5 separate regions of the Homo sapiens genome follow, and all the other regions are linked to region 1. The links come from fine-mapping of genetic effects on gene expression. A gene starts in region 1. Each other region holds a variant in brackets. All regions are shown on one strand. Distances are from middle to middle. Region 1 holds the start of GDPD5 (glycerophosphodiester phosphodiesterase domain containing 5). Region 2 overlaps GDPD5 (glycerophosphodiester phosphodiesterase domain containing 5). Region 3 overlaps GDPD5 (glycerophosphodiester phosphodiesterase domain containing 5). Region 4 overlaps GDPD5 (glycerophosphodiester phosphodiesterase domain containing 5). Region 5 has its middle 14 kb from the start of SERPINH1.

What was found. PIP is the estimated chance that this variant, and not a neighbour inherited with it, causes the effect.
Region 2: its variant is fine-mapped to the expression of GDPD5 in lung (TOPMed, PIP above 0.99).
Region 3: its variant is fine-mapped to the expression of GDPD5 in whole blood (TOPMed, PIP above 0.99).
Region 4: its variant is fine-mapped to the expression of GDPD5 in whole blood (TOPMed, PIP above 0.99).
Region 5: its variant is fine-mapped to the expression of GDPD5 in fibroblasts (GTEx, PIP 0.98).

Annotation. Positions count from the first base shown.
Region 1 is chr11:75,523,704-75,528,803 of GRCh38, forward strand. GDPD5 (glycerophosphodiester phosphodiesterase domain containing 5) reads right to left here and starts at 2,238. Exons shown (of 17, transcript NM_030792.8): 1 at 1,507-2,238. RefSeq lists an enhancer at 1,589-2,089 and silencers at 1,936-2,455, 2,506-2,565.
Region 2 is chr11:75,464,083-75,469,182 of GRCh38, forward strand. The region is part of intron 3 of GDPD5 (glycerophosphodiester phosphodiesterase domain containing 5); the gene reads right to left. Among named protein-coding and RNA genes, the nearest start is that of KLHL35, 33 kb to the left of the region's middle. RefSeq lists enhancers at 2,068-2,740, 3,009-3,656, 3,657-4,303. The variant C/T (reference allele first, on the strand shown) is at 2,272.
Region 3 is chr11:75,454,087-75,459,186 of GRCh38, forward strand. GDPD5 (glycerophosphodiester phosphodiesterase domain containing 5) reads right to left here. Exons shown (of 17, transcript NM_030792.8): 5 at 3,607-3,700; 6 at 2,671-2,730. Among named protein-coding and RNA genes, the nearest start is that of KLHL35, 23 kb to the left of the region's middle. RefSeq lists an enhancer at 2,253-2,851. The variant T/C (reference allele first, on the strand shown) is at 2,573.
Region 4 is chr11:75,439,051-75,444,150 of GRCh38, forward strand. GDPD5 (glycerophosphodiester phosphodiesterase domain containing 5) reads right to left here. Exons shown (of 17, transcript NM_030792.8): 11 at 4,086-4,236; 12 at 3,313-3,531; 13 at 2,596-2,753; 14 at 2,113-2,260; 15 at 829-911. Among named protein-coding and RNA genes, the nearest start is that of KLHL35, 8.4 kb to the left of the region's middle. RefSeq lists an enhancer at 1,888-2,450. The variant T/G (reference allele first, on the strand shown) is at 2,936.
Region 5 is chr11:75,545,383-75,550,482 of GRCh38, forward strand. No RefSeq gene overlaps it. Among named protein-coding and RNA genes, the nearest start is that of SERPINH1, 14 kb to the right of the region's middle. The variant G/A (reference allele first, on the strand shown) is at 2,357.

The sequences.
Region 1 (5,100 bases):
AAAGAGCTTTGTTTAGACATAGAGATTATTGCGAGGATTTGAAGCCCCAGACAGAGGTCTGGGGTAGAGGGAATCCCAAGCCCCTCAGTCACCTTGTCTTTTGGGATCCCCTAACCCTTCCACCCCCAGGGATTGAGCTTCAGACTTCCACAGACCTCTCACCACGCTCCTCCACCTTCCAGGGGCTTTCCAAGGTGGTTTCCCCTTGACTCCAGGGAGTTGGGCATCTCTAGGGTTAACTAGGCCTAGCCAAGGCCACAGGGCCCAGACCAAGGCCATATCCCCTCCCCGTCCCCACACAGAATAAGAGCCCACAGAGTCCATGCCAAGGGCTCTTTCACAACACCCCTCTCCCTACATGCCTTGGGGGCAGCAGAAGCATCCCCTGCCTGGGAATAAAGACACCTGGGACTGTGCCCCAGCCCTGGGAGCCCCCAGCCTTGAGACCTTGAGCAGGTCCCTTCCTTCCTGGGCAGAGGTATCCTGCAGGTTCCCCTGCCCAGAAGAAAATGAGGTTGGACCTTCCATTTGGGCCAAAGGCAATGCGGTTGCAGGCATTCCTCGGGGCCCCAGCAACCAACCACACTAATTCTCACCACAGCCTCATACATGGTCGCCCAGATCTCACATCAGCGATAGGGAAAGCCCCAGCCACCTATCCAGAAGATCCTAACTGGGGAGGAGTGTGCATACCTTGAAGGATGCTCAGGAAGGTTTTCTCAAGTCTACTTGTGGCTCAAGGACTCACTGGCTTTAGGATCGGACAACTGGCACTCCCTTCGGGTGGGCCTCAGTGTCCCCATTAGTAATGTGAGGGAGGTGAGTCACGTGAGCCACATCTCCAGCCACCCCAGAGGGGCTACATCTCCAGCTCTGACAGACCCTTACTTGGGGATCTCTGCAGTGAATTCACCAACAGATAAGCACGTCTCAGGACCTCCAGAGTGTCTTAGAGACCCTGGAGTCTGACACACAAGGGCCAGGAGCTGCTGCTCTCACATCCTGGGCCCACAGGGAGAGAAGCTTTGGAACTGGGAAGCTTCCCACCTCTACCCTCAACTCTGAGTCACCTTTCCTCGCGGGTGACATGGCCAGGGAGCGGGAGGCAAGAAGAAGCCACTTCCTCAGCTTTAGCATCAGCGCTCAAGTGCTCTGCCTCTTCCCCCTCTATCCTCTCCCGCTTCCCCAGTCTCCTCCCCGCAGTGAAAGGAGGTCACTCAGCCCCGTTAAGCCTCAGTTTCTCCATCTGCAAGCGCCGATAATAATACACAACACCTATTTCAGGAGTAGCAGTGAGGCTTAGGCGGGGCGGGGCGGGGCAGGGCGCGAACCCGCACACAATGGGCGCTCAATAAGTACCCGTTTTCTTTCTTTCCCCTCCCCTTCCCGCGCCCCCTCCCAGCCAGTTCCAGCCTCTGCTTGTTTCCCCTGACACTCCCTCCGCTGGCCCCCGCGCTGCCGCGATGGGGTCGGGGACCGCTCCTGCCGCGCATCCGGGGCTCTCACCTGCAGCCTTGGCTCTCGCAGGCCGCCGGGACAGAAGGGGACCCCTGTGTTATCTTCGGGGCAGGCGCTGAACCCCTCACCTGAGGCGGGACGAAGGTGACAGCCTGGGCTCGCGGCACCAGCCCGGCGGTTCGGTCCGACTGTCCTGCCCGCCTAGGACCCCTCACCGAGCGCACGACCCGGCCAGGGCTTCCCGGGCGCTCGCGCTGTTCCAAGCTGTTCCAACTGAAGGTTGGGGTCTCGTGAAGCCAGAGGCTGGGGGGGTCCGGGGTCCCGTGCACCGGAGGCGAGGGCCTGGGGCCACACTGCGCTAGCCCTGGAGCTGGGGTTCCGACCCTCACTGACGGAAAGGCGCGGAGCGACCCTGCAACCACGGACCGGTACGGCGGCGTTAGGAGCGTCCCGTCCCGGCGCAGCGGGTCAGGGCCGGGGCTCCGCGCGTCCCGGCCGCACGCCCCGAACCGCGGGGCTGGGACGGGCAGGGCAGGGCAGGCGCCGGCGGGGAGGCGCGGCGGCCGGAGCCCCGCGGGGAAGTCTTTCCAGGTCCCGACTCGGCTCTCTCTGCAAAACGGGGCGAACCTCGGCGCGGCGGCCGACTCCCGAGCTCCCGGCCGCGGCTCCACTTCCTCCTCTTCCCCTGCTCCCTCGCCGCTCGCTCAGCGCCGCGCCGCTGCCACCTCCGCTGTCATCCCCGCCACCCACCCCCACCGGAGCCGCAGCCCGAGCTCAGCCGAAACAGCGCCGCCCAGCGCCCCAGCGCCAGCCTGCGCGGCCCCGCCCGGACGGGGCGGAGTCAGCAGAGACCCCGCCCCCGGCCGGCTGCGGGCAGGGGCGGGGTGCGCGCCCTCTCCCCTTCCCGGGCCTCGCGCGTGGGGCCGCAGGAGCCAATCCGAGGGTGGGAGCGGAGCGGCGCCCTGCGGAAAGCGGATTCTACCTCGGAGAGGGCGGGGCGGACAATGGAGAGGTGCGGCTGCAAGAGGACAATGGCGGGGCTGGGGGTTCGGAACGGGCCGAATCGGGGAGGGGGTTGGCCTCGGGACCCGGAAGGAGGGAGAGGCGAGAGGGCTGGCTTGCCTGGGACGGGGGCATGGGGACTGCTGTGCGGGGATTGCGGGGGTCACGGGGAAGGAGCAGGGGCCAGTGTAGGAAAAGAAGCCGGGGCGAGGCAAGGTGGAGGATATCCGGGGTCAGGGGTCCCAGGGACGCTGGAGCGAGCCCTCCTGAGTGGTGGGATGCCACCGACACCTTGCTTCTCCCTAGCTTCTAGTGCTCGGCGCTCAGAGGTGAGAGTTGGGCTGGGAAGTGTTCAGATTTCAGGAAACGGTGAAAAATAAGTTTTTGGAAATGAGCGAATTTGTCTTCCACAAGCCTCCCTTCCCTGCGCCCATCCCCGAGGAGGAGCGTCGTGGTCAATTTTAAAAATACGAACTCAAGAGCAGAGTTGTGTGAGGACACACACTTCGAATCGTGATGCATCTGCAGTCCGCTCCCGCCCCTTCCCACCCCGCGCGTTGGGTGCAGGAGCCGTCTTTATTTTCTATTTCATTTTATTTTGAGACAGGGTCCCGCTCTGTGGCCCAGGCTGGAGTGCAGTGGCACTATCACGGCTCACTGCAGCCTCGAACTTCCAGGCTAAAGAGATCCTCCCACCTGTGCCTCCGGAGTAGCTGTGACTACAGGCGTGCACCACCACATCTGGCTAATTTTTAAATTTTTTGTAGAGACAGGGTCTCCCTATGTTTTCCAGGCTGGTCTCGATCTCCTGGGTTCCGGCGATCCTCCTGCCTCGACCTCCCAAAGTGCTGAGATTATAGGTGTGAGCCCTGTGCTTGGCCAAGGAGCCGTCTTCAGTGTGTGCACAGGACCAGGCGCAGAGAAGGTGTTGGAGGGAACTGATGTATGAATGAAAGTTGAATGTGTGCCGCGGGGGAGTGGGGTAGGGACCATGTGAAAGCCGCTAACTGGCCTGGGGAGCTAAGGGATGTTGGTGGCACAGTACAGTCTCTTTGTAAACCTCACACCAACCTTATGTTGTGATAGGTACCCCATTTCACAGATGAGGACTCAGCACAGAGAGGCTAAGTGACGTTCCCGAGACCACACAGCTGGCACAGAGTTCTATCCACCCATCATTATCAAATTCTAGGGTAAAGCTGTGTGGCTTTAACAGGTTACTCTCCCTCTCTGAGCCTCTGTTTCCTCATCTATAAAAGAAGAATAAAGGTGCTACTTGGCAGGGAACCAGGTGAGGGACTGGGCAGGCAGCAGGCTTCAGAGGGTGAAGCATGGGCATTCCCTGCAAAAGAAATGGCATCAGACTATGGCTGAGAGACTGGTTGGAAGAACAAAGAAGAGGGTGAGCTGGAGGCTGAAGTTCAGGCTGCGGACTTGAGGGTGCCCTGTCTTCTTCAGGCCCAGGGGTTGGGAGTAGGCAAGTTGGGCCCAGGAAGTTGGGACTGGTCTCTGGAGCCTGAGGGCTGGGAGAAGGCAGTTTTGCCTTTACTTGTTGAACTTGACGCTAAGAAACCTTGTGGCCCTTCCCTCTGTCCAGAGCCCTCTCTGGCTCCCGGTTGCCAGCATGACCAAGCCCTACATCCCTAGCCTGGCGTTCCAGCCCCTTTGTTATTGCTCTCTGCCTGCTGACTCCACCAGCCTCATCTCCCCATTGCTTACTTCCCTCTCTACTTGCGCCAACTTCTCTCAGCTCCATCAGCAAGCAGGATGCATTCTGTCTCCATGCAGTTGTCTCCTCCATGTGTTGCTTTGCTGTTCCCCTTCTCTCTGGAGTTAATTCTCATTTCTCTGCTGGGCTGAAGGGCAGAACCTCTAGGCCAAATGCTCATCTGTTCTCTTCACTGCTGTATCCCCAGAGCCTAGCACGGAGCCTGGCACATAGTAGGTGCCAAGTAAACAATTGTTGAATAAATGACCCATCTCTCATGAGATTTATCAAGATTTATCTCCACCAAGATTTATCACCACCTCCGAGAAGCCTTCCTGAACTCCCCCAGGCTGCCTGCCTTTGGTCTGGGCTCCCTCAGCTTGAAGGTTCTGTAATGATTGATTTCCATGTCTGGTTTCCCTCCCACCCGCCACCATCCAGCCTGGTACATGGCCTGCCCTTGTGAGATCTCGGCACTGGGAGATGAATGAGGCTCTCAGAGAGTTCTCTGGCTGCCCCTGCTGCGAGAGCCTCCTTAGCTGGGTCAGATGAGCAGGATGTCAGAATAAAAGGAGATTTTCAGAACAGACCCTCCATGACCCCTGAGGCGCTGGGGGTGTGTGAGGGGGAGGCATGCCCAAGGTCGTCAGGAGGTGACTAGCAAACAGGTCTCAAGACACCCACATTTGCCCTCTGGCCACTCTTCCAAAGGGGAGGGAGTCTTGTGAGCTGGGGAATCTGGCCTTTTGGTGGCCAAGGAGTTCCATGAAGCATGACAGAGGTGGTCATGGTGGCTGGTCTGGGCGGTGGTCGAGGGTGAGGCTACACGGAAACATTAGCCTTTTCTGCCTGATGCCCTACTTCTCCCAAGAACCTTCTACCTTCCTTACATTCTTCTCACCGGAGGCAGCAGCTTCAGCTTCGGGCCCCAG
Region 2 (5,100 bases), 60 kb before region 1:
TCCACTCTACTAGTACTTTATGACCACATGCAGGATTGGGCAGGAAGGAGGGAAAGTCTTCTCACTGTCCAGAATCCTTCCATCCCACACCATGCAAAGATACCATCAGTCTGCCCAGGAACCTCAGATCCCTGTCACCACTTACAAGCTGTGTAACTCTGGGCAAAGTACTCATTCTTTCTGTGACTCAGTTTTCACCTCTATGAAATGAGGGCAATACTAGTACTTATGCCATGGGGTTGATGGAGAATTAAATGAGATAATACAAGTCAGGTGGCTTGGTGAGCACTCAGCACACTACCAGTGTATCTGTGACATCCTCTGCCTCTCCAGAACGTAGGAAAGGCCTTCACACCCTAATGGTCCATGACTCCATACCCACTAAGGGCCTGCTCCGTGCCTCGCCCTGGGCAAGAGGGCTGGTGCCTGGGTGACCCTCCTGTCCCAGGTGGGTCACTTCAGTTGGGCGACTCATGTTTGGGTGAGCAGCTGCCACCACTCCTTGTCATGTGCAGAGCCCGACTGCCTTGCTTAGCCTCACTTCGTACATAAACAGAGATGCAAAGGTGACGACACCCTGAGGCCCAGTATTTCTAGCAGGTTTAGGCTTGGGGAGGTGGTGGCTTCTCAGAGAGTAGGCCACTTGTGTCTGCCCCAGCTGGACACAGAATGGCACAAGCTCCAGTTCCAGGCACAGCAAAGCCCAGCCTTGGTCAGGAATAGGGAAACCCTGGCTAGGAGCAGGGCAGGACATGTGCCCTTCTAGAGCAATCGAACCCTAGGAGCTGCCACCCAGAGAATGGCTGAGTCCCTAGACTCAGTCCTGCCTCCCATGGAGGCAGTCTGGGTCTGCACATGACCGTCTCTCCACCACCCTCCAGCCAGCACCCCAGGACTAGTCCTTCTCAGAATCCGTCTTGCCACCTCAAATTCTTATTTGCTCATAACAGCCTTCATTCCCTGCAGAGTGCAGCTGGTGAGTCCCAGGCCAGCTTAAACATCTGAGTCTCCCAAAGGGTGAACCATGTCTTTAGACTGACACCCATCTGGTCACGTCATACCCCAGCTTGAGAGTCCCACTGGCAAGAGCTTCTCAGTAGATGTCAGGGCCCACTCTGTCTGGCCCAGGCCAGCTCTGTGCTTTATGCCCCATGCACAGAATTACATACGGTTCCCCAAACAGGCTCTTCAGACCCCAAGCCTTCACACAGCTGGAGCCTCCATCTAGAAAGCAACCTTTCTCTGCTCCATGAGGCAAACTACTCCTTCCAGAGTGCCTCCTCCCTGAAGACTCCCCTGTCTCACAGGGTGAATCCCATCTCCTCAGAGCTCCGTAACCCATGCAGCCATCTCACCTATGGCTCAGACCCCACAGTTCTAGAACTGTCTCTATACATGTCGGTCTCCCTGCTATACATAAATGCCTTGAGATCTGGGCAGTTTTCGTGTTCCAGATGGCACAGGAACTTGAAAAGATTTGATAATGAAATGATAGGTGAGGAAACACCCTTTCTCCTACCCTGGCATGAGTACACCCACCCAGGAGAGATTCCCCTGAGGCTTAACACCCAGTTCCCACAAAAAAGTACCTAGTCTTCTATAGAGCCCACGCTGGCAGTGTTAGATGGCTGTCTGTCCACAGAGACCACTTTGCCTCCTCAGGGGCAAGGCCTGTGTGCCTCTGACCAGCAGAGAAGGTTCTGAGAGGGACCTAGGCGAGGGGTGAGCCTCGGCCTAGGATGGGTCTGGTCCCAGGCAAGTAGCCTGGAGGCGGGAAGGTAAAGCACCTCCTGTAGGCGCTGGGAAGACGACCTGTGACCGGGGTGATGCAGGGCCCAGGGGCAAGGCTGACAGGGGGCCAGGAAGACCACAGGGGCCGGGAGGGCCCATGGCAGCCAGGGTCCTATGCCCTAAAGGCCATTGTCCTCAAGTGTCCAGATCCTTACAGTGGAGCAAGGCAGGGCAGGAATGAGGGGCTGCACCTCCCACTCCTGGGAACCAGCCAAGACCAGAGCTGGTGGTGGTTGGGGGTGAGGCATCCAGGCATGGAAGGAATGCAGGCAGGGCCTAAGCAACAAGGAGCCAGGAACCCCATGATCAGAACTAGTGCATGAGCTGGGGTTGGGGCAACCTAGGGATTAAAGCCCTGGGAGCTGAAGCCGGAGGCCACAGTGAGCCTGTAGATGGGGATGAAGAGGCCCCAGCACAGAGGGAGGCAGGCAGCGGGGGTCACTCTAAGAACAATCAGAGGAAAACACTGAATGGCAGGGA[C/T]TGGAAGGAAGGGAAGGGGAAGGTGAGGAAGTAGCCAGAGGAAGTGGCCTGGGGAGCAGCTCCACTGATAAAGAGGCCCCAATAGCACTAATGGTCCTTGTCAGGGCACATTACAGCAGAGAGAGGCCTGCCCGCTCCACCCATTAGCAAGCCAATCTGGCCCTGCTCCCAGAGACGTGGAGCAGTGATCGCTGCCTCAATGCCCCGGCCACGGCCCTCCTTCATCTCTCACAGTCTGCATAACACTAGGGGTTGTTTATTTAGGGGTATCTACCCCCATTGCACAGAAGCTCAGAGAAGGGCCACCACATATGGCTGAGCAAGTTGTGCACTGCCCCCTAAGAAGTGCCACTCACATCATGGTGACCATCAATGTGCATATTATGACGATTTGCTGGCACATGGCGGGCGGGTGTGTCCTAGAAAATGGGTGCTTTTTGCTAATTTGCATAAAGGCTCAACACGGGTGAGTGGAGGGGAGTCAGAGGGGTCAGCAGGTAGGGGAGGAGTGGGGATAAGATTTGAACCCAGGCATACTGACTGGACTCTGCAGGCCCCCTTGGGAGGCAGCCTGAACAGCTCCCCTCAAAACCCACCTTGCCCTCTGGGACCCAGTATGGCGATCCCAGGCCCAGCCTAGTTCCCTGGATTTCTCTCCTCCAACTCTCTGACCCCTAGGCCAGACCTGATGCTCCTTCAGGAAGCCTTTCCATCCCTCCAGGGCTCAAAAGGTCTCCCCTCCCTGACCATCCTGCACAGACTCTTGGCACCCACCACTGTGACCCTCAATCAAATTGTAATTGTGGAGATGGAAAGAGCACGGGCTCTAAAGAGCTGGCTCTGCCACTCAGCACGTCACTTGGCCCCTCTGAGCCTCGGTCTCCTCGTTGTAAATGGGAATAACAGCCCTTCCCTCGGAGGGAGGCTGTTAAATGAGCTGAAGGGCTTCAAGTGGCACACAGTGGGCGCATAATGAGGGTGGCTCACTGGGCTGCGAGCTCCCTCAGGGCAGGGATGGCCTGAGCTGTCTCTATGTCTCCTGGGCCCAGCATCACGCCGGGCACAAGGTGGTGGTCACCTATGGCGTGAGGGATAGAAGGAGGTATGGATGTGAGACAGGGCAACAGAGGGGTGCTCAGGGCCACCAGTGGGCAGGGCCATCGTGCAAGCCCCAGACTTACCCTCAGGGAGCAGGAGAAAAGCTGAGTGGGCTGGGGCTGAGGGAGCAGCTGGCTCCTGGGGTAGGCACCAGGAGGAGTGTGCTGGAGACTGCCTAAGGAGGGACCAGACAGGGCGAGCAGCTGGGGCAGGAGTGGCCCCTGGCTGTGGATGGGGTAGGATGCTGATTCCTGCCCGAGGGGATGGAGGCTGAGGTGGGGGCTGCTGTGATGGAGAATCCTGGAGGCTCCAACCCAGAGGCCACTGCATCTCCTTCCATTATTACCCTAACCCTCCAGAAACAGGAGCCCCTCCGTAGCAATCTGGGCAATTGTGGGTCAATTTCCCTGAAGGCCAGTCCTTCTCCTCACTGTCTCCTGAGGATGGTCATGTCTTCTCTTCACCCTTCTTTGTCTCTGTCCTGTTCCTCCCACCCCAGAGCCCTCTGTGTTCAGAGAAGAACATAGAGAAAGACCTCATTAGCAGCGGGGGCTCATACAGTCACAGAGCACGACTGCAGCCGCAAACCCAGCCCCACACAGGAAGCATGGGCATGGCCGCTGGGGTGGGATGGCTCTGCTGCTGCCTTTTGCCACTGGCTACAGGCCCCTGCCACTGTAGACTGCAGCCCCAGGCCAAAATGCACACAGCTGCCCCTCCCACTACTAGGGATCCTGAAGGTTATGGAGCACCTCCCCTTGGTCCCTTAACAGAACATGGGGTCTGAAGTCTGCACACATCACTCTGAATGTTACAGAATTTCAGAATCGCAGAGCTCCCCTGCCTGTCCCCTTGCCCTGAGGCAGCGAGCGTGTCTGCAGCCTCCAGGACACGAGCTCACCCTACTCTACTCCACTGGCTCCTGGGAAGGGGCTTCTCCTTCCAGATGCTGCCTAGTCCTTCTGTGGACTCAAAATTCTTCCTTCCAAGACATGGAGCCTGACAACGGAAGGCTGGGTTGAGGGAGTCTGGCAATACTGGGTTTGAATCCCAGACTGGCCACGACTGAGTGACCTTGGGGAAGACATTTACCTTCTCTGTGCCCCAGCTTCCTGCTCTGTAAAATGGGGACAGTATCGGCATGCTGCCCAGACCACTAAAACCTCCCATGCACGGCATCTGGTGAGGCTGACCTTCCAGGCAGGGGAGTTACTGCCCTCCCCCGACGCCCCCCCCCCGGGAGGTGGAGCTGAAATCTGCCTCCTCCACTGCTCCCCTGCAGCTGGTTCTCTGATACCACACAGAACAAGGCCAGCCAAAGGGTAAGAAATATTGGGGTCAAATGACCACAGAGTGGAGAATACACAAAAGAGCTGGATTTTCACCCAGGCCCTTTTCCCACCGGCTGTGTGGCTGTAGGCCAATCGCTCAGGACCTCTGACCTCAGCTTCCTCCTCTGTTCACAGAATGACATCACCACCACCTCACAGGAGGACTGCCAGGCCCCAGCACGATTACAGATGTAAGCTGTAAGTCGCCAAATCCAGGATCGTTCCTGTAATTATCATTTCGCGTCTGACAGCCCTTTAATTATGTGAAGACAGTGATCAAACCTTTCCTCCCTGCTCTACACCACATCTCTCCAGCTGCTGAGGACAGCCAGGTTGATTGCCTTCCCCCAACCCAGGGCGGGTGCCATGGTCAGCCAGATGCAGAGGCCAGGCCTGGCTC
Region 3 (5,100 bases), 70 kb before region 1:
AATGACAAACTAGGAAGAATTATTTGCAGTTTGTTAGCCAAATGGCTAATTTCCCACATCTATAAAGAGTTCCTGCAAATGAATAAGCAAAAAGCAATGGCAAAAATGGCAAAAGATATGAAGAGACAGTTTTATAGAAAAGAAAACACAAGTTACTCAAACATGTGAAAAATGCCGAATCTAACTCACCCGAAGGGAAATGCAAATGAAAACTACAGCAAGGTACCACTTTTCACCCATCAGGCTGACAAAAGCCAATAAATCAGCTGATGCTTTATGGGCAAGGGTGTTTTTATAGAACAACTATCCATTGCTAAGAGAGCATGAATCGGAGGCACTTGGCAAGGAGGCCATTTGGCAAGATCAAAATGATGAAAGTACACATTCTTCACCCAGAAATTCCTCTCCCAGGTCACCACCACATCGTCCTGGCAAAAGACAGAAAGCAGCTGGGATGTCGATCCGGTCTATCAACAGGGAACTGGCTAGACGCCTAGGGAATCAGGGAATATCCAGACCAGGGAGCAGGAGCAAGGGATGGATACCAACAGGGATGCTTTAATGCAGCGAAGAAGGAGCTCCAAGAATTCTGTTAAGGTGCGGAACAGAGGGTGGAGTAGGCGACTGTTTGTGTTTAAAGAAAAAAGAAAAAGGAAATGCATATGTACATGTGCATGTGCTTAAAATCTGTCTGGAAAGATAGTGAGGAGACTTTCTTTGTATACTTTTTTGTGCTTTTTGTATTTTGAATCATGTCGATGTATTACATGGTCAAAAGTTAATTAAAGCAAACAAAAAAGAATAAAGAGTCCTTAGAATTTTAGAATCAAATGGCAGAATCTTAGAAACAGAAGAGAATTTCCAGGCCCTGCTGGAACACTCTGAGCTCTGGGGAACTCCCTCCTGGTGGGGCGGGTCGAGCTCTGGGTCAGCTCCACCTGAAAGGACCCTGCTCATGCTGCGATCTCACATAGGGGGCAGAGGGCAGAGGAAGGCACCCTGGGAGCTGGCACCAGCATGGACAATGGGATCTGCTTCCTTGCATTGATCTGCCAGCTCCAGCTGGCTCAGCGGCTCTATAGGCCTCTCCACTAGAATCAAGCATGTGTGACCTTACCTGCTGAGAGCCAGGCATGGCCCCAGAAGGTGACCACAGCATGTGCCAGCCCCACCCGGGGTGCCAGCTGGTGCAGTTCTTTCAAATGCCAGCTTTGCAGCCAGGAGAAGAAACTCCCTCACAGAGGGGATAGTGGAAGCCCAGAGGAGGCCTGTGAGTAGAGTGAGGGCAGGAGGAAGGTGGGGGGACCAGGGGCTGCTCACGGCTCCTACCACTCTAAGACTTCAGTCTCTGGGGTCTGACTCCCAAGCTCCAGGCCCATGTAACAAACCGGCCTCGGTGCCTCCCTGGATGCTCACAGGCACCTCCCACTCCACACAGCCCAACCCAGGCTCATGCTGTCCCCTCTTCCTTTCCTATTCCACATCCGTCTTCTAGCTAGAAGTGAGCCCCTCCCCTTGGAGTCATTCTGGCCCCATCTCATGGGCTCATGGTAGTTTCTGAACATTTCTGCCCTTTCCTAAATGGCAGGCCCACGGGGAGCCAGGCTCTGGGGAAAGGGAGACGATCCAGATGTTCCTGGGAGGGAGGGGCTCTGCCTTGGTCAGCTCGGTACCACTCTGTGCCCACCAGGGCCCCAAGAAGGCCAGGCATCAGAAACACACTTCAGCACTATGCCTGCAATGGACGTAAGGCAGAGAGTTAAGGCTCCGGAATGGGTGAAGCCTGTCTGCTTTGGGCCCAGCCCTGAGGGGGGGCACTGGGAACAGGGAGATGGAGGTTAACTCTGGCCTGCAAAGAGCACCTTGACTGGGTGGGTCGGGGTCAGGGAGCCAGACGAATACTGAAAACACAAAAACATAGCTGTTCAGACATGTAGCAGGGGAGGCTGCAGGGGCTGAGGAAGTCCCGGGAGAGAATCCTGTGTATGTAGGGGAGGTACTGAGGAAGGGGTCCGAGAGAAAAAGGGAGGGCAAGAGCAAAGTGCTAAACGGGGGAAGGAGGCAGACATGCTGGGAGAGCATGAGATGTCTCATGTAGCAGAAGCTGAGGGTGACTGTCCCATGATGGGTTGGGAGATCAGCAGGGGCCAGATCATGCCAGGTAGGGAAGTTTGGGTCATCCTGGGAGCGGTGGGAGTGGTGGAAAGGCTTTAAGTTGGGGAATGCCATCGCCAGATCAGGGTTTTCAAAAGAGCTCACCAAAGAAGGAAGAGGCAGGTGAGACCCGAGGCAGGGCCCCCAGAGGGTGGGTGCCACAGTATGAGCTGTGAGCTCTGCTGGTTAATCACATGACTGCGGGACCCTGGATCTTCCATGTTTAAACTGGGAGACCTTAGGCAAATCACTTAACCTCTTTGTACTTCAGTTTCCCCAACCACAAAATGGAATGATAACAGTACCTACATCACAAGGTTGCTGTAAGGGTTAAGTGAATGAAGACGGGTGAGGTTGTGAGAAAAGTGCTTGGCGCATAGTGAGTGCTCAGCCTTAGCTATGAGAACAATTCTAACGG[T/C]GATCCAGGGGAGGGACATGGTGGCCAGGCCCTTCCTCTGCTGCTGCTGCCTCCAGCTTCCCTTGCTCTCTCCCAGCCCCGGCCGAGGCGGCCCTTACCTTGTGCAGCCAGTGCAGGTTCATCTGCTGCCCCACGGCAATGTGACATAGTGCCAGGACCTGAGGAGGGACCCACAGGGTGATTGTCAGGCCCGTGTGGGCGGGAAGGCTTTGCCAGTTTCTCAGACACCCTGCTCCCCACTGCGGCTCTGGGCCTGACCCTGGGCAGAGGCAGCGAACCTCCCTCCAGGCGATGGGAATGCGCTGCCCTCCCCAGCCCAGCCCAGACTAGCCAGCCTGAGCCTGGCCTCCTCCCAGATGATTCCAGGCCTCTAGGCTCTTCCTCTGTGTGATTCCCCGTCAAGAGGTCACTGGGTGCTGCTGTACTTGGACTACTCAACTTCATTCATCAAACATTTTGGGAGTTCCAGTCCCCGGGATTCTGAAACAGACTTGAGCCTGTCCCCAAGGAGCCCCCAGTCCAGCATGGGGGATCCACCTGCATCTCAGTGAGTGGAATATCGGGAGCAAGAGCCTGAAGCAGAGGCTCCTGGAAGAGGAAGCCTGCAGTGGGCCCTCTCGGCCAGGACAGCTCTCACTGGGTCCGGGGCAAACATTCCAGGAAGGGGCAGCCTAGAGAGACGGGCAAAAGCAAGAGGACCTCCTGCTTTGGGGGACCCAGGCCTCAGGTGCAGCAGCCCGAGAGGCCCTGGGCAAAATCTGAATTAATGTGCCATATGTAGCCAACTTCCTACTAGTGGCATGAAATAGCTTCTGATTAGTCGCTATTATAAATTAAGATAAAAATGAAAATGTTATACATATCTTTCTGTATTTTTGATTACTTCCTTAGGATACATTCCTACAAATACAATATTCCTACAAATACAGCTTTCCCCTTTATACCAGGGTGGGACCCTCCATCAGCCCAGCACAGGGCCAGTATCCCTTCCCCTGGGAGCAGGGCCACCTGCCCTCCAAAACAGCCCCATGTACCAGGAGGCCAGCGATGTATGCGAAGGCAGCAGCTGTGGTCACAAGGATGGGTACGGGCCAGTCGCTCCAGTAGCCCATGCGGTTGTAGAGGTACCTGCCAGGAGGAGAGGGGGCAGGGGTCAGACCTCCACCAGGCCACTACCTGGCCCAGGAATCAGGATGGTCTGAGCCTCCACACAGACGACAGGCTGGGCTCAGTGACCAGGCTGTGCCCACCTAGCAATAAGGCTCAGCGTCTGCCTGATGCTCTACCATGCCTGCTCATGGCAGCCACCCGGGGACCAAGAAATGTAAAGGAGAAAATAATGCCCCATAATCCTATTGGCCAGAAGTAATCATTACCAAGGCTGTGCTGGATCTTCCTCCTGTGGGTTCCCCCGCCCCCATGCCTATATGTTTGTATAAACAGCAAAGCCAGGACCCCGCTGCACAAAGCAACACGGTCAGGAGCACAGGCTTTGGAGTGAGGCACACAGGCTGGATTCACATCCCCTCTCGTCTCTGCTTTTCACTGTCTTGTAGGACCTTGTGGAGGACAGGCTTCACTGATTCTAAGATGCCATCGATTGTCACTGTCATCTCAACTTCAATGTTAAGATGTGAAAATTGGGGGTCTTAGAATTGATCGAATGTAATACTTGACTTCTCTGAGCCTTAGTTTCCTCACCTATAGGATGGGGATAAGAAAGTGCCTTTTGAAGCCAGGTGTGGTGGCTCACGCCTGTAATCCCAGCACTTGGGAGGCTGAGGCGGGCGGATCACGAGGTCAGGAGATCGAGACCATCCTGGCTAACATGGTGAAACCCCATCTCTACTAAAAATACAAAAAATTAGCCGGGCGTTGTGGCAGGCGTCTGTAGTCCCAGCTACTCGGGAGGCCGAGGCAGGAGAATGGGGTGAACCTGGGAGGCAGAGCTTGCAATGAGCAGAGATCGCAGTACTACACTCCAGCCTGGGCGACAGTGTGAGACTCTGTCTCAAAAATAAATAAATAAATAAATAAATAAAATAAATAAATAAAAAGTGCCTTTCATGGGGTCTCATGAGGATGAAGTGAGGTGAGATGCATGGTAACTACTCAATAAACTCTCTTTGTTTTTGTTTGTTTGTTTGAGACAGGGTCTCTGTCACTGAGGCTGGAGTGCAGGGATGCGAACATGGCTCACTGAAGCTTTGACCTCCTGGGCTCAAGCAATCCTCCTACCTCAGCTGGGACCATAGGCACCCACCAAAATATCGGGCTAATTTTTTTTGTATTTTTTGTAGAGGCAGGGTCTTGCCATGTTTCCCAGGCTGATCTCAAACTCCTGAGCTCAGGTGATCCTCCTACCTCAGCCTCCCAAAGTGCTGGGATTATAGGCGTGAGCCACCACACCTGGCCAACTGTCTTCTCAACACAAGCATTTACTTATGCCAGTAAAAATCCTGAGAAAATGTGATTTTTAAAATAGCCACGTGGTTTTCCACTGAATTAATGTACCATATGTAGCCAGC
Region 4 (5,100 bases), 85 kb before region 1:
ACACTTTGGTGCAGAGAGGGGCCAGGTCAGGAAGCTGTCAAGGAAACGCTGGTCCCCACCTGCAGAAACGGCCGTGGGAACAGGGAGCAGAGGGACACACACGGCAGTGGGACGGGAGGAGCAGAAAAGAGGATTGCGGGGGTAAGGGAGGCTTCAGGCGAGCGCGCTGTCTGCGAGGTGGCCCGGGCACAGGGCTTGGTGCACGGTGGGTTTTTAGACAGAACTGGAGAAGGGATGGCAAGAGGGAGAAAGAGGAACAGAAGGAGGAGGAAGACCACACCAGAATTACCTGATCAAGTGATAGCTGTGAGATGCCAGAGTGCAGCAGAGAGAGGGGGAGGGGGAGAGAGGAGGGACATGCGCCGATCAGAGCAGGATGGGACAGAGAGAGAACATCAGTCAAGAATAAAATCCCAGCCCCTTGGTTCCTGGCTGGGTGGGGGCCCCAGGCTGGCCCTAGACCCTCCCTGGGACCAACCACACCTCCCCACTGCGAGCACACCCCAGCTATCTTGCTGAGGGCTGGTGGGAACCCATGCCCTGGCTAACAGATGAGCAGGCCAGCCCGGTGAGGAGCTGAAATTCACCTAAGCCCACATAGCCACCCAAGGCAGAGCTTGGCTCTGGGATCCCAGCTGCATGTTCATTCCAGAAGTCACCCAGCCTCTGTCTGAGGGAGGATGGGGCCACCGGAGTCCGTCCTTCTTCCCTGGTCAGGCCTGCTCCTGGCTGAGGCCCAGGGCTCAGGAGAGGGTTCACCTGGCTGGGGTGGGGGCTGGGCCTGCTGCAGGGTAGGGACAGCCACGGAAGTGGTCAGATCCTACTCACTTCTGGAGCACGAAGATGCCCACGATGAGGGTGAAGGAGACCAGGTCGGCAGTGACCCACATGAGACAGTACTCGTCCGGGGGCTGTGGACAGACGGCCCGAGGCCAACTTCCAGTCATGGCCAGTCCAGACTGAGGCTCCAGACTGAGGGTCCGTGGACCAAAGGACCCCACATGGCCACTGGGGAAGGGCAAGGGAGGACCCTGAGAGGGTCTGGGGGCTGAAGATGACATTTTGCAGGTGTAGGCTCCAGGCGCTGTGGGCCTGGGGGCCGGGGCGTGTGTGTGCACACGTGTGCACTCTCAGGGTAGGAGGGGACTGTATGGTGCTCAGGGCAGAGGGGTTGTGTGCTAGGCCTGCAGGGTCTGTGTGTCTAGGGTCCTCAAAGCAGGAGCCAGATACTGAAAGACAATGGCTTTGCCGCCCCCCGCTGCCGACTCTCATCCATCGGTCTCGACCCTTTCCCCAGGCTGCCTTCCCTTCACCCTCCTCTCCCATAGAACCATCCACAGCTTAGGTCTGATTCATTGGCACTGCATTCTCTCAGCCATAAGGATACCCTCCACCTGCCTTCTGCATGCTCAGGGTGACAGTGGAGCCACCACCTATCTGCAGGTGCCCAGTCAACCAGCTAAAATATTGCTTTATTTGCTGTTCTCTGAGCAGATTTTAATTGTTTCCTATTCTTTTTTATTTTTATTTTTTGAGACAGGATCTCACTTTGTCATCCAGGCTGGAGTGATCACAGCTCACTGCAGCTTTGACCTGCTGGGCTCAAGCAATCCTCCCACTTCAGCCTACCGAGTAGCTAGGACTACAGGCGTGTGCCACCTTGGCCAGCAAATTAATTAATTATTATTATTTTTTTTTGTAGAGACAGGGTTGCCCAGGTTAGTCTTGTACCCCTGGGCTCCAGTGATCATCCTGCCTCTGCTTCCCAAAATGCTGGGATTATAGGCGTGAGCCCCACGCCCGGTCAATGCTTCCTATTCCTGTCCTTGTTACCCTCCAAAGCAAAGAAACCCAAGCAGCTCTTTACTTCTTTAGAGCCCTTAGTGATGCTTTTCTCCCTGTGGATGAGGCCCAGGGTCCTCCCAGCACCTTAGTGCAGATCCCAGATGCCATGAAACCCTCATGCCTCAAGCCTGCACGCCCACCATGGACTCCCCACCATGCTAGAGACCTCCCAGGGACAGCTCCAAGCACAGAGCTTGCCGAGTGGTCAGGGCAGGCTATAGGCAGCTCCAGCACTGCCCCCCAGGGGCCCTCTGCCCCCCAACTCACCATGATCCAGAGGGGGGAAGGCACCTGGGACAGGGCGTGGGAGTTGTCAGAGGTGACGGATGGGACCCCCGCACACCACAGCAGGGAGAAGAGCCACGGTGCGTTGACTGTGTAGAGGTTCACACTCAGGTTCCAGGACGCGTAGTCCCTGTGGGGCAGGGGAGAGGCAGGTCAGCATGCGGACCCTGGCAGCTCCAGGCCCAGTGTCGGGGCTGGTAAAGCACGTCCTGTTCACGACCTCACAGCCATGCCCGGGGCAAGGAACATTGGCTCCAGAGGGCCAAGCTCCGGGACAAGCCCGGGTCTGCCCGACACGCTCACCCTCTTGTCTTTGAACCATGTGTGCCTGATTCCTCTGTGTGCCCATCCCTCTGCCCGACCGTGTGTGTGTGTGTGTGTGTGTGTGTTGGGGGGTGGTGGTGGCAGGACTGGGAGAGACTCAGTCCCACCCTCTCCTGGAGGAGCCCAGGGCAGGGCAGGCACCTGAGCTCCTGGCGGGACACCTGAGTGTAGCGCAGGTTCAGCCGCTGGATGTGGCCTCTCCGCAGGCTGGCGACTGCCTCCTTGGAGCCTGATGTCTGTTGGAAGCCGGGAGCCACCTTCCGCACCAGGGGCCTCTGCCTGCTAGGCAGCCACATGACCTGCAGGCAGAAGAGAGGCAGCCTCAGACTTCTCTTCTGCACGATGCGTAAGAGTACCTACTCCTCCTAGAGCACCTGTGGGGTTAAGAGACAGGACCTGGCAGGCGGTGAAAGCTTAGATGAAGTCATTAGCAGGGCAGGACTCAGTCCCAGCCAAGGCTGCAAAGTGCACTGGCAGCAAC[T/G]CAGGAAACTTCGCTTCTGGCCTGCTGTCAGTACGGGAGGGAAAACCCAAACAGCCACTACTCTGCACATGGCCACTAGCACCTAGTGTGCCGTCCTAAACTGATGTCAGATTTCTCTGGTCCCAGATTATTACACCAAACGACAGGGCAACACTTCACTGAAATAACTTGACCGCCTGGACCTTTATACATTTTAAAGTGTTTTCTTGTTCCCCTCTTGTCCCATGATGACCCTGCCAGGGAAGTGAGCAGTGTGTGATCCCCATTTTACAAATGGGAAAGCTGAAGTCCGGAGTGCAACAGGGAAAGGCTATGCAGCAGCAGGGCTCTAGCCAGGCCAGGGCTCCCGGGGGCAGAGCTGCGTTGCAGGGCCTCACCTGGTGCTGGGGGAAGCCGGAGTGCAGCACGGCCTCCAGAGTCACGTTGATAAAACTGCTGCGGTAGGGGTGCTCCCGGGGCGGGTCACGCAGGTTGAGCAGCAGTGTGGCATTGCCCTTGGCCAGCTCCAGGAGCTCTGCCAGGCTGCAGATGGACTGGTTCTGGGCCTCTCTGTGGTCGGAGGGTGACAGGGAGCTGGCTGTCCAGAAGGGGTCAGTCTGGCAGGGACAGGGACACACACATGGCTGCATCATCAGCCCTTTGGGGGCCCCCACATACCCTTCTGGCAACCAAGCGTGGAGACCCCTGGGCTGCCAGAGTCTGCTGGGGTCAGGCAGATTGATGGCTGTGGCCATGTGGAGGCTGTAGGAGGCCCCAGCCCTAACCTTTCTACCCCACACCCTGCTTACCAAGAGGACGGAGGACGGCTTGCTTGGAATCGCTCCCAGACCCACAGCATTTCTCCTTCTAGAGCATTTCAGATCAGAGAGCCAACCCCTCTCTAGAGTTTTACAGAGTTAAGAATTCTATTCACTGCTCTCATCCCTGTCAACCTTTTCTAGTGAGGGAAATGGACCCAGAACAAGCAGTGACAACCATGAGTCTGGCAGCAGTGGCAGGAGCCTAGGAGGCCACTAAGCAGCTTGGGTGGAGGTCGCGAAAGCTCTGAGAGTGGGGGTCTCGAAGCTGATGGCCACCCTTGCACCTCTCACTCCTTGCAGTCCCTGCTGGTGTTTTCCATGCCTAAGATTGGGATCAGGTGCAGCCAGACCTTCAGGAACCACTGGCCAGCGTTGAGTCTCTGCAGGGTGGTCCAGTTAAGCATGGAGGCAGGCCTGCGGGCCAGCTCCGGGAACTCCTCCTCCACGTTGGTGGTGCGCCGCAGGGTGGTGTCATGCATGAGGAAGGGCACGCCGTCCAGGCTGCAGGGAGGGTGGGGCCACCGAGTCAGTGACCCCCCAGATCCTTTACCTGCCCACCAATGATCGTCACCCCACACAGTCCTCCCCACCCAGCACAGGATCCCGGCTGGCTCTGCCCCTCTCTGGGCCTCAGTCTCCCCATCTGCACAGGGAAGACAGTGGGCTGGTGGGTGACCCTGAAGGTCCAATGCCTTCTGGCTCTCTGTGAGGGTCAGATGGGGGTGGGGACTGCCAAGGAGGGAGGGCTGGGAAAAATCTGGACCTACTCTCTTAGCAACCTTGGAAGGTAGGTGCTGCCTCATTTGACAATGGAGAAACTGAGGCTGAGAGAGGGAAGTATCTAGCTCAAGGTCCACAGCCTGTAAGTGGTGGAACCCAGTTTGGAACCAAATCCCTGTGATGCTATGATGAGAACAGTGCAAATGTAGACCTCTTTGGCAAATTCCACCCAACCCCAATCCTTGTCTACTCTACCAGGGTTGCAAATAGCTCATATGGTGCCTTAGTGTGAAACAGTAAAAGGTACCTGTGCCCTCTGTTCCTCAAGGCATTTTACCACCATCTGCTAGAAAGTTGTGATAAACACACAATTCTATGTCTATACTGGGAACAATGTCCTCATTTATGTGATGCCCTTGTTCAGTATGCAACCTGTACAACTATATATGACAGTTCTGCCCTTCTTCCCTTCTCAGATAACCTCTGTTATGAGATTAGTATGGATTCTTCCTGCCATTTATACTAATATCTACTTATATATGTACATGGAGAAAGTGTATATGTCACTTTTTTGTGGTATTTTAAAACGTAACTGGAGTCACAGTGAATGTATCACTCTGCAACTTGCTTTATTTCCCTCATGAG
Region 5 (5,100 bases), 22 kb after region 1:
AAGGAGGGCCTGATCTGCTCTCTCTCCCACTCTATAGACAGATGGTCATGGAGATGCTGGGTGAGGTGGCTCACACCTGTAATCCCAGCATTTTGGGAGGCCAAGGCGGGTGGATCACCTGAGGTCAGGAGTTCGAGACCAGCCTGGTCAACATGGTGAAAACCTGTCTCTACTAAAAATACAAAAAATTAGCTGGGTGTGGTGGTGGGCACCTGTAATCCCAGCTTCTCAGGAGGCTGAGGCAGGAGAATCACTTGAACCCAGGAGTCGGAGGCTGCAGTGAGCTGAGATCGCGCCACTGCACTGAGGGAGACCAGAGGCAGTCGCTGCCCTCTCTGAGTCTCTAGTTTCTGAGGCAAGCCCACCCCCAGAGAAGAGTCTTATTCTACATTGGATGAGATTTTGCAGTTTTAATATTACTTTTTGGTTTTATTACTTTGAACTATACTTTAAAAAAATTAATGATGGACAATTTCAAACATACCCAAAATTAGAGAGATGAGTCTAATGACCCCATCACGTACCCATCATTCAGCCTCAGCAATAGTGGGTCATACCAATCCTGTTTCCTCTGTGCCCCAACCTACTTCTCCCAGTGTAATTTGGAATCAAATCTTCGAGAAAGAAAAGAATGACTTCCTCCTTGCTTCTGAAAAATTAAAAATAAGAAGAGCCACTGCCCTCCACTGTTTGATTAGAACACTAAGGTTAGGGCATAAACCCGAGATTAAAGCTGGCAGGATCCATGGAACCATCCCAAGGACGGTGGGGTTGGTATATGTGTCCTTCACCATCCAGCTCCCACCACTCTGAACAGTGCTCGGCACATAGTAAGTGCTCAACAGATCATTCTGGTGCTTCTCCTCCACTTGCTCCTCTGTAGCCTTCCCAGGCAGCGGCTTTTCCTCTGTCAGGCATGAGCTGGGGCGGATACTCAGCTCTTCATCCGAGGCTGCAGGCTGGTTCTGCCCACAGCAATCCCATCCCAGGCTTGGCCAAGAGGAGAATTACTTTGCAGAATACAAGACATAATGAGGAAAAGCATCTACTTCAGTGCTCTGTAATGGTAGCCACTGGTTATCATAAAAGCAGTGGTGGCCAGGCGTGGTGGCTCACGCCTGTAATCCTAGCACTTTGGGAGGCCGAGGCGGGTGGATCACTTGAGGTCAGGAGTTCGAGACCACCCTGGGCAACTGGTGAAACCCTGTCTCTATTAAAAATACAAAAATTAGCCGGGTGTTGTGGAACACACCTGTAATCCCAGCTACTTGGGAGGCTAAGGCAGGATAATTGGTTGAATCCAGGAGTTGGAGGTTGCAGTGAGCTGTGATTGCACCACTGTACTCCTGCCTGGGTGACAGAGGGAGACTGTCTCAAAAAAAAAATTAAAAAAATAAATAAAAGTGGGAAGGAGACATCCAGAGAAAAGTTTGGGGGCAGGAGGGTGGCATATGGGCAGACATTTTCGGAACTTCACCGTCCTGTGTGGAAGGTGGCATAGAAGGGGTGAGAACAGAGGCAGCAAGATAGTGAGGAGACAGGAGCCACAATCGGAGAAGGATGAAGGTTTGACCCACCTGGGAAGGGAACCCCCAGCACGTGGCAGAGGGAGGAGCTGAGAATCCTTAGAGGCACATCTCTAAGGTGCCAGAGGTCCCACTCCGCCTGCCTTTGAGCTCCGGATCCTGAATGCCCCCAGGGAGGCTTTGTAAAGATCCTTCCTAGGACTGGCTACATTTTGCAGGACCCATTGCCAAATGAAAATGCAGGGCTCCTAGTAAAAAAGATTACTAAGAATTTCAAGATGGCGACAGCAGAGTACTGAAATAAGAACAGGGTTCTTTGCACAGGGCTGCTGATACAGAAAGAGAACATAGGACATCCAGTTAAAGTTGAATTTCACATAAACAATGAATTTTTTATTTTTATTTTTTAGTTTGTCTGTCTTGTGCAATACTTGCAATAACATGTTTCTGTTGATCTGAAATTCAAATTTAACTGGGAATCCTGTATTGTACCTGGCAACTCCACCAGGTGGGTCCTGTTTCCTCCCTTAACTGGAGCTCCTGGGAGTGGTTCAGGCTTAGGGTTCTTCCAGGATAATGGTTTTCAAACTTCAGCCTGCATCAGAAACATCTGGAGGGCTTGGTAAAATCCAGATTGCTTCCCCCCAGCCAGAGTTTCTGATTCATGCCTAGAGTACAGCCCAAGAATTTTCATTTCTGACAGGTACCAAGGTGATGCTGATACAATTGGTCCTGGGACCACACTCTGAGAACCACTGCTGGGGTACATCACCCTAGGAAGCCCCTCAAAGAGATAGAAAATCATAGTGACCCAAAACGGACACCAGAGG[G/A]CAGAAGCGCCCACTGGTCAGGCTATAGGACCTGCCCACTGGCCTGGGGCTGGGCTTACACCTTTGCTGAACATTTGTTCTGTGCCTGACCACGTCCAGGGCCCTGGAGCAGACAAAGAAAGACGTGGGTCAGCATTAGTCTCTGCCCTGAGGGGCTCAGGGTGTGGAAAGGGAGACAGATGTACGAAGTGAGAATTACAATTGGTGCTGAGATGGGGGAAGCACAGGCTGTGGGAGCCCAGGGGAGGCTGGGGGTGGTCAGGGCCCGCTTCCTGTAGGAGCCTGAACAGAGGGTAGGAGCCATCCATACCGGGAGAAGGGGAGGAGGGGCTTTCTGGGCATAAGAATACACAAGTACAAGGGCGCACACTGGACAGTGCCAGGGACTGCTTGAGGAGGAGTGCAGAGGTAGAGGACAGAATCGGTGGGCGGGTAGCCTGGTGAGGCTGGGGCTTGGCAGATCCTGAGGGTCTCAGGGAGCCCCAGGAGGGTTTTAACTAGATGGTGTGTTAGAATGAAGAGTGTCTGGGAAGAGATACCAGAGGCAGGGAGGCCTAGTGAGCAGGAGGGTGCAGTGGTCAAGGGAGGAGGTGACCAGGGGATGCAAGGGTGGCCCAGTCTCTCTCATCTGTTCCTTCATTCCTCCATTCATTGCACGTGTGTATGGAGCAACTTCTCTGAGCCAGGCCCTGGGTTGGGTGCTGGCTGCCGGCTGCTGGGACTTGGCATTGATGAAGACAGTTCCTGGCTTATGTGGAGAGCTCACATTTTAACTGAGAAGACCACCATCCAACAGCCAACCTCACAGTGAGCCAGCTAGTTACAGTTGTGGTCCCTGAGGGATGGGTACCAGAGATATCAAGGGAGCCACATGGCAGGGTCTGGGCAGAGTTGGGGTTAGGGTGGGGGTAGGAGGCATCTCTCAAGAGAGACCCTGACCTGGGCATCCTGACCTAGCGAACAGATGCCTCATTCAGCCCTACCCTGGTGCCTCCGTGCCGCAGCCCAGAGCTAACAATATGGCCATTGACAGCTCCTGCCACTGCCTGAGGTCTAGCTTTGCTGCCCCCATCCATCCTTAGCCACACAATCCTGGCCTTCAGTGGGGAAGAAAGAGCAGGATTATACTCAGGTACTAGGGACTGGGCCCACCCCTCCACCAGAGTCAGCCTGGCCCCAGCCCAGGTGAGTGCCCAGCCAGGCACCTTCCTCAAATGTCCAGTGCTCTTGCTCTAAGCATGTGAAGAGTCCGGCAGCTAGAAGCAGAAGGATGCAGGAGATGACCTGAAATGCCAAGGGGATGCCGTAGACTCGCAGGGCTCCTGGACGCACACTGTAGAACATTTGTCCATAGAGATGGGATTGGCCTCACGAATGACATAGATGCAAATCAAGCTAACTGGAGCATTACTTCTAGAAGGCTGACCTTCTTGCTATTCCTAGAGCATGCCTAGTTCATTCTAACTGTGGGGCCTTTGCCCATGCAGCTCCCTCTGCTTGGGATCCCCTCCTCCCACCATAAAGGTCTCCCTCCTCCTTTGGTCGGAGGAAGAATGGCTCCCCAAAGACATCCATGTCCGAATTCCTGGAACCTGTGAGTGCATTACCTTGCATGGGACAAGGGACTTTGCACATGAGATTAAATTACAGATCTTGAGATAGGGAGACTTTACTGGTGGCCCAGTGTCATCAGGGAGGTCCATCTCAAGAGGGAGGCAGAGGGGTCAGAGTCAGAGAAACAGATGTGATGAGGGAAGGAGAAAGCAGAGAGAGAGGGAGATTGGCGCTGCCACACTGCTGGCTTTGAAGGTAGAGGCAGGGGCCACAAGTCAAGGAATGCGGGTGGCTTCTAGAAGCTGGAAAGAGCAAGGAAGCAGATTCATCCCCAGAGTCTTTAGAAGGAGTTGCTAGCCCATTTAAGTCTTCTGACCTCAAAACCATAAAAGAATAAATTTATATCATTTGAAGCCACTAAGTGTGTGGTACTAGATACAGCAGCCACCGGAAATGATTACAGCTTCTTATTCAGATTTCAGGCTGCCTGGTGTAAAGTAGTCTTACCCACAACACCTGTTTTCATTTCTTGCTAGCCCTCATTATTACTGGAAATGATCACATTTCTTTCTTAGTTTATTGCGTGTCTCCACTCGCCAGCACACCAGGCTCCTGGAGGGCAAAGATCTGGTTTTGCCCACTTTTTTATCCCAGTACCTAGAACAGTGCCTAGTAAATTGTGGGTTCTCAATAAATCTTTGCTACGTGAGACTGGGAACGGTAGCTCACGCCTATAATTCCAGCACTTTGGGAGGCTGAGGCAGGCAGATCACCTGAGGTCAGGAGTTCGAGACCATCCAGGCCAACATGGTGAAACCCTGTCTCTACTAAAAATACAAAAATTAGCCGGGCGTGGTGGTGCATACCTGGAATCCCAGCTACTTGGGAGGCTGAGGCAGGAGAATCGCTTGAACCCGGGAGCCAGAGGTTGCAGTGAGCCAAGATCCCAACCGCTGCACTCCAGAGTGAGACTGTGTCTCAACAACAACAAATCTTTGCTGGGCACGGTGGCTCACGCCTGTAATCCCAGCACTTTGGGAGGCTGAGGCGGATGGATCACGAGGTCAGGAGTTCAAGACCAGCCTGGCCAAGATGGTGAAACCCCATCTCTACTAAAAATACAAAAATTAGCTGGGTGTGGTGGTCAGCGCTTGTAATCCCAGCTACTCGGAAGGCTGAGAATTGCTTGA